2 separate regions of the Homo sapiens genome follow, and region 2 is reported to be linked to region 1. The links are microRNA targets in miRTarBase. Many come from high-throughput screens and were not tested one by one. Region 1 holds a microRNA gene; the other region holds the end of a gene's coding sequence.
The links. Region 1 holds the annotated microRNA hsa-miR-5189-5p (UCUGGGCACAGGCGGAUGGACAGG, at 1,205-1,228, opposite strand). A microRNA usually pairs through its seed, bases 2 to 8, with sites in the 3' UTR of a target mRNA and lowers its output. Matches are read on the target gene's strand: a 7mer-m8 pairs with bases 2 to 8, a 7mer-A1 pairs with bases 2 to 7 and ends in A, and an 8mer does both.

Region 2: miRTarBase lists TBCCD1 as a target of hsa-miR-5189-5p. The part of its 3' UTR that is shown has no 7-base or 8-base seed match.

Annotation. Positions count from the first base shown.
Region 1 is chr16:88,465,781-88,470,170 of GRCh38, reverse strand. MIR5189 (microRNA 5189) reads right to left here and starts at 1,253; the gene lies at 1,140-1,253. The region is part of intron 1 of ZFPM1 (zinc finger protein, FOG family member 1); the gene reads right to left.
Region 2 is chr3:186,547,429-186,551,818 of GRCh38, forward strand. TBCCD1 (TBCC domain containing 1) reads right to left here. Exons shown (of 8, transcript NM_018138.5): 7 at 3,701-3,851. The coding sequence ends at 3,722. Among named protein-coding and RNA genes, the nearest start is that of CRYGS, 5.2 kb to the left of the region's middle.

The DNA.
Region 1 (4,390 bases):
GCGATGCTCCTACACGGGAGGGGCCTTTGCCCAGGACAATGCTGGCTCTGGAGGCCCTGGCTTTTTCTCCGTTTCCTTTTTCCTTCTGCTTGCTTTGCCTCTGGGGACACAGCCAGGCACAGGGAGCAGATCCAGAAATCAGCTGGGGAGTATTTATGGAGCACCTACTGTATGCCCCAAGCTGTCCTGGGAGAGGACAGAGCTGCCTGCATGTGTGGAGACCCCTCTGCAGACTGGGAGGGCTGCGTGGGGAGATCCTCTGGGCTGGGCACGCACCTCTGACCCTCACCACGTGAGAGGCACTGCACCCCACGTTAGGGGGTGGGGCCCTGGCCAAGGTGATGTCTGGTTCTGGTCGGACGGCCCCTCCCTACTTCCTCTCCTTAGATCTCAGCCCAGACTCTTTCTCTCCTCGCCCCGCCACTATTTTCCACTTACACATTTTTGACAAACACCCACACCTGTGGCTGATTTTCAGGTGCCGTGGGAGCTGACAGGGCCTCCAGCCAGGTCTCAGGCCGGCGGAGCCTGCCTCATCCTGGTCTTGCCAGCAAGACCCACTGTGCAGTGTGGGTGGATGCAGAACACAGGTGCATGCCCCCTAAGGTGTCCTAAGCCCCCTGTAGACATGGTCTCCTGGCACATGAATTTCTGACAATGGGAAATCTGGAAGACCCCAGGTTTCCAGGCTATGCCACAGCCACAGACAGGAGGACCCCCAGAGAACCTGCCACCTCAGCCTCATGGTGTGGAAGGGGAAACTGAGGCCCAGGCCGGCAAGGGGCTTGCTGAAGAGCCCAGAAACCATCCTGGGAGGCAGACCTACTAGACCGCCTTCCGGTTTTACAGATGGGGAGGCTGAGGGTGGGCAAAGGGGTTGGGACTGTCATTCATTAAGATGGTGCCACGTCCCTGGCCCGGCCGGCACTTCAGAAGCTTGGCAGAATGAGGTTCCGGATGGAAGTCAGCGCGGGGAGAGGGTGGAGCGGTGGGGGGCAGCCTGCAGGAGGGTCTGGAGTGGGCCCAGACATGGGGGTGGGAGGCTGGCTGGCCCCAGGGCCGTCCCTGCCGGGTTGTGAAACTCGCTGTTCCCATCTGGGAGTGGCTGCTGGCTGCACTCCTCTCGGGAACTCCTGGGTCCTGGTCCCCAACTGAGGCCACGTGGGTCTGGGCTCTGACGGTTGGCAGGTCATCCAGAGGCCAGCCTGTCCATCCGCCTGTGCCCAGACAGCGAGGCCCCTAAAAGGCGGGCCCTTCCAGAGCCGGTGGTGGTGGTGGCAGAGGTCTCCCGTCCTGGGGCAGGGTCCAGGATGGGAACTACTCCCCCAGGTCAAGGGCAGCCCCTGGAGGAGGCCCTGCCCCCACACAGCAGCTCAGCCAATCCCTGGGCCTCACCCCTGCTCATTTGCATACCCCATTTCCATTGGCTGCCAACAGGCTGGTTAGGACAGTGGTGCCCTGGCCATGGGGGTGGGGCTCTGGGGGGCGGGGCCCTGGGGGTATCAGATTCTGGGTGACTGGTCCCAGCCCCAAGTCTAGGGTCAGAAAGCTGCATGGGGCTGGTGGGGGGCTTCAGTTACAGTGCAGGCTCTCCCCTTTCCTCGAAGGCTCCCTGACATCCATTCAGGGATGACTCTGAGTGGGAAAGATACTGGTCCAAGGTCGTACAGCCAAGAGGCCGGCACAGCTGGGACCTGGCCCCAAGTCCCAACCCCTCTCCAAGGCCGGCCTCTTTTCTCCTGTGGGGGCCTGTTGAGAGCGACTTCTTATTTTTGGCTGCCTTGTTTCAGGGAGGGCTATTTGGGGGCTTTCTTTGCAAAATGATGATGATGATGACTTTCAGAGCACCCCGAGTGCTCAGCTCTCCCTCTAGATCTGGTGGCTCTGTGCGCCGCAGGCAGTGGGCTCGCGGGTGCGTCGGGACGGTGGGCTCGCGGGTGCTTGAGGGGCGGTGGGCTCGCGGGTGCTTGAGGGGCGGTGGGCTCGCGGGTGCGTCAGGGCCTGTGGGCTCGCGGGTGGGTCAGGGGCAGTGGGCTCGCGGGTGCGTGAGGGGCGGTGGGCTCGCAGGTGCGTCAGCGGCCGGTGGGCTCGCGGGTGGGTCGGGGCGGTGGGCTCGCGGGGGCGTGAGGGGCGGTGGGCTCGCGGGTGTGTGAGGGGCGGTGGGGGGCTCGCGGGTGTGCGGGTTGAGAGTGTGTTCTCACTTTTGTTCCTGGCATTAGGGTGGGGTGAGATAAGGGGAAGGGGGGCCGCTCAGCTCGAGCAAGCAGATAGATAACGGCGATAGCACCTCCTCCACCGCACAGCACGCATCGCCCTTTTTTATCAAGTTCTCTTTTCTTCTTTTTCGTTGTAGGGTGGTAGAGTAGAAAACACCCCACCCCCACCTCCCAAAGCCATGGAACTAGGGGGTGGGGGCCTCCCCATCTCAGGTCCCAGCCACAAAGGGCACGGGTCAGCTTAGGGCCCGCTGTGCCCAACACGCCCAGCAGCCAGCCCAGAGCCCGTGACTGGAGGAGGGAGGGGATCCAAGGCAGCTGCGAGGCCCGGGGTCCGGAGGTCCCAGCATGACAGGAGCAGCTGCGCATGTGCCCTGCAAGGCAGGTCTCGCGGTCTACACCATCAGCTCCTTGAAAGGACTCTGAGAGGGCGACTGGCACCCCATTTTATAGGAAAAGGCAGCAAAGCCCAGAGAAGTGAAGTGTCACTGGGGCGGGTGCTGAGCTCCTTCCTCGAGAAGCCCTGGGTGGGCACCGCTGGGAGGGGTGGGGAGACCTCAGGGGGGTTGGCCATGGCCTGCAGGGCAGGCTTAGCGGTGTCGGCCCTATTTGACAGATGAGGAAACTGAGACCTGAGACTCTGGGATGTGTGTGAGAACCAGGGCCATGGGGACAGATGCTGTACCCCCTGCTTGTTTGCTGCGGCTCCTGGTCTGGGTGACTGTGGCAACTATGGGGGACTGACAAGGGGTAGACTCTTGGATCACAGGGACAAATGTTCTGGAGCCACTCTGGCCGCTGTGTGATGGGACGAGGCCCTAGGTGACATCACTGAGGTCATCGGCACACTGTAGCCGTTGGCGGAAAACCGTGCAGGAAGAATGCCAGTAGGATTCAGGGAGGGTGGGCTGCGGGCAGAGAGGGCTTTGGAGAGGTGGCCCCACCCCAGGGACCCTCGCCCCGGCTCGTGTCCCCCCATTAATACCACCGCCGTTTTGGGGTTCACTGAGCCCTGCCGCACAAGGGCCCCAGATGCTTTACCCACTTCTGCCCTAATTCCTCAAAGGCCAAGGAGGCTGGAACTGTGATCATGCCCATGATACAAGTGAGGAAACTGAGAGGCTGCCGGCCAGGGGGCAGGATTTAAACGCTGGTCACTGGAGCTGACATTTACCCCCCTCCCCCACATACACACCCCACTGCACTGGAAATAGCTGACTTCCTTTTAGAATATTGAAACAAAACCAAACCCAAAAGTTAGAAAGAAACCAACTTTCTCACCAAAGGAGCTTATTTTCTGGGGACAGATGAAATGAACCCAAGAAACAAGAATAGAGGCAGGCCAGCCTCCGCCCATCCCCTCCCACTGCCAGGATGGGCTGTGCGGCCCTCAGCCGTCCCCTGCCCTTTCTGTGCTTGGCCTTTCTCCCTGAAAGGTACGGGTGAGCCCCCTGGGAGGCTCGTGGGCTGCCCCCCACTGCAAACACCCCAGAACCTCCAGCCAGGATGGAGACTCTGACCTCGGCTAGACTCTAAGCCAGAAGCCAGGGTCCCTTCTGTTCTCTTCATGCTGTGTGATCTTGGGTGAGTTACTCAACCTCGCTGAGCCTTCAGTTCTCTGAGGAGAATGAGGTCATAGGCGCCCCTCCCAGGGCTGCAGAGTACTCCATGCCAGAACTGCCGGGGCTGGGTAACGGAGCTGTTGTCTAACCACGGCCGCCATCAGGATCACTACAACTGGGGGTCCCAGAACCACCCAGAAATGTCACCATCCACACCGCCCCAGGGATCCTGCCTTTGGGTTCCCAGAGGATCTCATTTCTCAAGAGTCACTCAAAATATAAAATCCAGGAAGGGGGAAATGGCAAGCTGGCCTGCACCCACTGGGAGCCCAGGCGGCTCCACAGGAAGCCTTTCTGCCAGCGAGGGAGCGGCCGGGCCACTGCCTCAAGGAGACATCGTAGCTGCGTGGCCTTGGTTTCCCCCGTGCACGGCGGGCCCCTTGGCACCCTCCACCCCATGGCTGCTTCACCTGTCCCTCCTCCACCCCTATGGCTGCTTCACCTGTCCCTCAGCAGGAGGATTAGCCGCACGCCGGGCTCTAATCGCCGCTAATCGCTCCATCAGCGCCGGATCTCGGATCAGCTGAAGGAGGCGGCTTTATCCAGACAGAC
Region 2 (4,390 bases), not on the chromosome of region 1:
ATTTTTTTGTAGAGACAGGGTCTCATTATATTGCCCAGGCTGGTCTCAAACTCCTGGCCTCAAGTGATCCTCTCACCTCAGCCTCCCAAAGTGCTGGGATTAGAGACATAGGCCACTGCGCTCAGCCAAATTGCTAATTCTTAATTCTCAGCATTTATTAATAAATATTGCTAAATTCTTTTTTTTTTTTTTTTTTAAGACGGAGTCTCGCTCTGTCGCCCAGGCTGGAGTGCAGTGGGGTGCTCTCGGCTCACTGCAAGCTTCGCCTCCAAGGTTCACGCCATTCTCCTGCCTCAGCCTCCTGAGTAGCTGGGACTACAGGCACCTGCCACCACGCCCGGCTAATTTTTTGTATTTTTTAGTAGAGACAGGGTTTCACTGTATTAGCCAGGATGGTCTTGATCTCCTGACCTCGTGATCCACCCGTCTCGGCCTCCCGAAGTGCTGGGATTACAGGCATGCTAAATTCTTTAAAAAAAAATACACCCTTAAGAAATGTAAATATTTAAAGCAAAAAATACACTTTTACAGCTTTGGAAAACTGCAATTCCTTTAAAAGTTAAATATATTCCTCACAATTCCGCTTCTAGGTATATATCCATGAGAAATAAAAACAAATGTCTACACAAAAACTTGTACACAAATGTACACAGCAGCATTACTCACAACAGCTGAAAAGTAGACACAAGCCAAATGTCCATCAACTGATCAACAGATAAACAAAATGGTAGATCCACACGATGGAATATTATCTGGCCATGAAAAAGAATGCAGTACTGATACATGGCTACATGGATGAATCTTGAAAACACTACACTAACTGAAAGAACCCAGACACAAGAAGCCACATGTTATATGATTCCATTTACATAAAATGTCCAAAATGGACAAAGTAGATTAGTGGTGCCAAGGACTAAGGGGAAGAGGAAATGTAGGGGTTGGAGGAATAAGGAGTGGCCTACAATGTGTACGAGCTTTATTTTGAAGGTGATGAAAATGTTCTAGATTTTTTAGTGGTGATAGTTGCACAAACTTCTGAATATACTTAAAAGCTACTGAATTCTTTACTTTAAAAAGGTGAATTTACTTCCCATAATGTTATGTGGTAATATTTTATCTCAATAAAATTTTTAAGAAGTTTTCTCCCACCCTAGACACCCAATCTCATTCCTCAAAGACAAACACTGTTTATAATTTCTTTATATTCTTTCAAAGATTGTTAGGCATATAATTAGCATATAAATACACTGCATTTGGGGTGTTTCTAGTCCACAGTTTTTTTAAACAATGCCACATCAAACATCTTCAGTTACAAAATTTCGGTTAGCTAAGAGGAATACATTGAAGAGATCTAATGTACAACATGGTGACTGTTGTTAATAACAATACTGTGTGATCTTGAAAAAAACAAAGAGAGTAGATTTTAAGTGTTCTCACTGCAAAAATGACAACTATGTGAGGTTCTAATGTTAACTAGCTTGATTTGGCCATTCCACATGCATATATATTTCAAAACATCATGCTGGAAATGATAAATATATACAATTCATCTGTCAATTTAAAAATTAAATAAATAGGCCAGAAGCAGTCGCTCATGCCTGTAATCCCAGCACTTTGGGAGGCCAAGGTGGGCAGATCACCTGAGGTCAGGAGTTCAAGACCAGCCTGGGCCATCATGGTGAAACCTCGTCTCTACTAAAAATACAAAAATTAGCCGGGTGCGGTGGCCGGTTCCTGTAATCTCAGCTACTCAGGAGGCTGAGACAGGAGAATCACTTGAACCTGGGAAGTGACGGTTGCAGTGAGCCGAGACCGCACCACTGCACTCCAGTTTGGGGGACAGAGTGAGACTCCATCTCAAAAATAAATAAATAAATTAATTAATTAATTAATTGATCCCTACATACATGAGTTTATCTGTAAGATAAATTCTATTAATAATAAGTGAAACTGCTAAATCAGGGCAGGTGCAGTAGCTCATGCCTGTAATCCCAGCACTTTGGGAGGCCGAGGCAGGAGGAACGCTTTAAGCCAGGAGTTTAAGACCAGCCTGGACAACAAAGTGAGACCCTGTCTCTAAAGAAAAATAAAAAGATCAATTGGGTGTGATAGCATGCACCTGCAGTCCCAGCTGAGACAGGATTGCTTGAGCGCAGGAGTTGGAGGCTGCAGTGAGCTATGATTGTGCCACTGCACTTTAGCCTGTAAGAGAATTAGACCTCATCTCTAGAAAAAGAAAAAAGAAATCGCTGAGTCAGAGAAAATTTGTATTTTTAATTTTGATTTTGTCAAACTGCCCCCCACAGAGGTTACATATACACTTTCCTAGTGGTAAACGAAATGTTTTGCCAGTATTGTGTACTACCAGCTTTTGCTCTTTGCCAGTCTAATAAAAAATAGTATTTTACATTTCTTTAATTTTAAGTAAGCATTTTTGTGTCTCTAAGTATTTTTCTGTGAACTATCTATTATTGTCCTTTGTCTGTTTTCTATTGCTAGCATTTAAAAATACTTTAGGCCAGTTCCGGTGGCTCACGTCTGTAATCCCAACACTTTGGGAAGCCGAGGTGGGCGATGTTCAGGAGTTTAGGAGTTCAAGATCAGCCCAGCCAACATGGTGAAACTAAGTCTCTACTAAACATACAAAAATTAGCTGGGCACGGTGGTGCGTGCCTGTAATCTCAGCTACTTGGTAGGCTGAGGCAGGAGAATTGCTTGAACCGGGGGAGCGGAGCTTGCAGTGAACTGAGATTGTGCCACTGCAACTCCAGCCTAGGTGACAGAGGGAGACTCTGCCTCAAAAAAAAAAAAAAAAAAAACTTTAAACTAACACAGTATACTAATCTCTATTAAAAAAGAATACCATACGTTTGGGGCTGGGCGCAGTGGTTTATGCCTGTACTCCCATCACTTTGGGAAGCCAAGGCAAGTGGATCACCTGAGGTCAGGAGTTTTGAGACCAGCCTGGCCAACATGGTGAAACCCAGCCTCTACTACAAATACAAAAATTAGCCAGCTGTGGTGGTGCATGCCTGTTTTCCCAGCTACTCCGGAGACTGAGGTGCGAGAATCACTTGAACCCAGGAGGCGGAAGCTGCAGTGAGCTGAGATGGCGCCACTGCACTCCAGCCTGGGCGAGAGACAGAGACTCAGTCTCAAAAAAAAAAAAAAGAATACCATATGTCTGGATTAAATTTACTTCCAGTAAATTTGTTTGTATGCATATTCTCTTCTATTTAATCCATGATCTTCTAGTGTTCAGTAATCAAATCTTCATTTGGATTAATTCTGGTAATTTATTACTGCTAATATGTGTAATTAGCAAAGATCAGCTAATTTGTAAATTGGTTTTTGTGAGGGGAATGGATAAGAGGAAAGGTTTAGAAAAGGAGAATAAAACTTAGAACTATGTATGGGGGAATGTGGTATCTTTGGACAGTACAACTTGTCCCAGGCAAAAAGCAAAATAAGACAAAATTTGGCCATTATATTGGCCCCAAATTCTATAGGCTCCATCTGAATATTTTGGTTGGTTTTCTCACTATAAAATATGGTAAATATGGGTACATAAAGGTCCGTGTATGCTGGTAGGAGCGGTAGAAAAAATTTGGGCATGTTTAGTATATAATATTCTGTGCCTTTTTTTTATGCTTGAAAGATTTCCCCAAAAGAATCTGTTTTAAGTGGTATAAATGCCTACCAGTGTCTGCATGTAAGATCCTTATCCAGCTGCTTGTTTGGAGCCTGCTGCAGGGGGTACAAGGCTGTCCAGCTGTTGGCGATGTCCTGTATTAATCAACCATTCATAAAACTTGTTCTCTACCAGTACCTGGAACTGCTTCCTTTGATCCCTAAAATTGCGATTATGAGTAAAAAGAATATAAGAACATGAATTCATATAAATTGTACTCTAAGCAATTATACAATATTTTAATAGGATAATGTTAAATGATTAATTATTTCTTGTTATCCTTTTGTTCTCACTGTTCAGAGTACACTGGACACCCCCACCCCACAAAGGATTGATCAGATACAATGTCCTCTTTCTACTTTTTCATTGTCAGATATTTACCAAGGACCAAGTGAACACTGGGTACTGTTCTGACTGATGGGGATAAATGTATAGAGAAGAGACAAGGCCCCTGTTGAAGCAGGATGACACTTCACGACTCCAGAGGGCACCATTCACATTGTGATCTGTGTAATCCATGCTCCTGAAGACTATATATTCTAGTAGGAAAGATAGGTAAAAATAAAATAAATAGGCCGGGCATGGTGACTAACGCCTGTAATCCCAGCACTTTGGGAGGCCAACGCGGGTGGATCGCTTGAGGCCAGGAGTTCAAGACCAGCCTGGCTAACATGGTGAAACCCTGTCTCTACAAAAAAT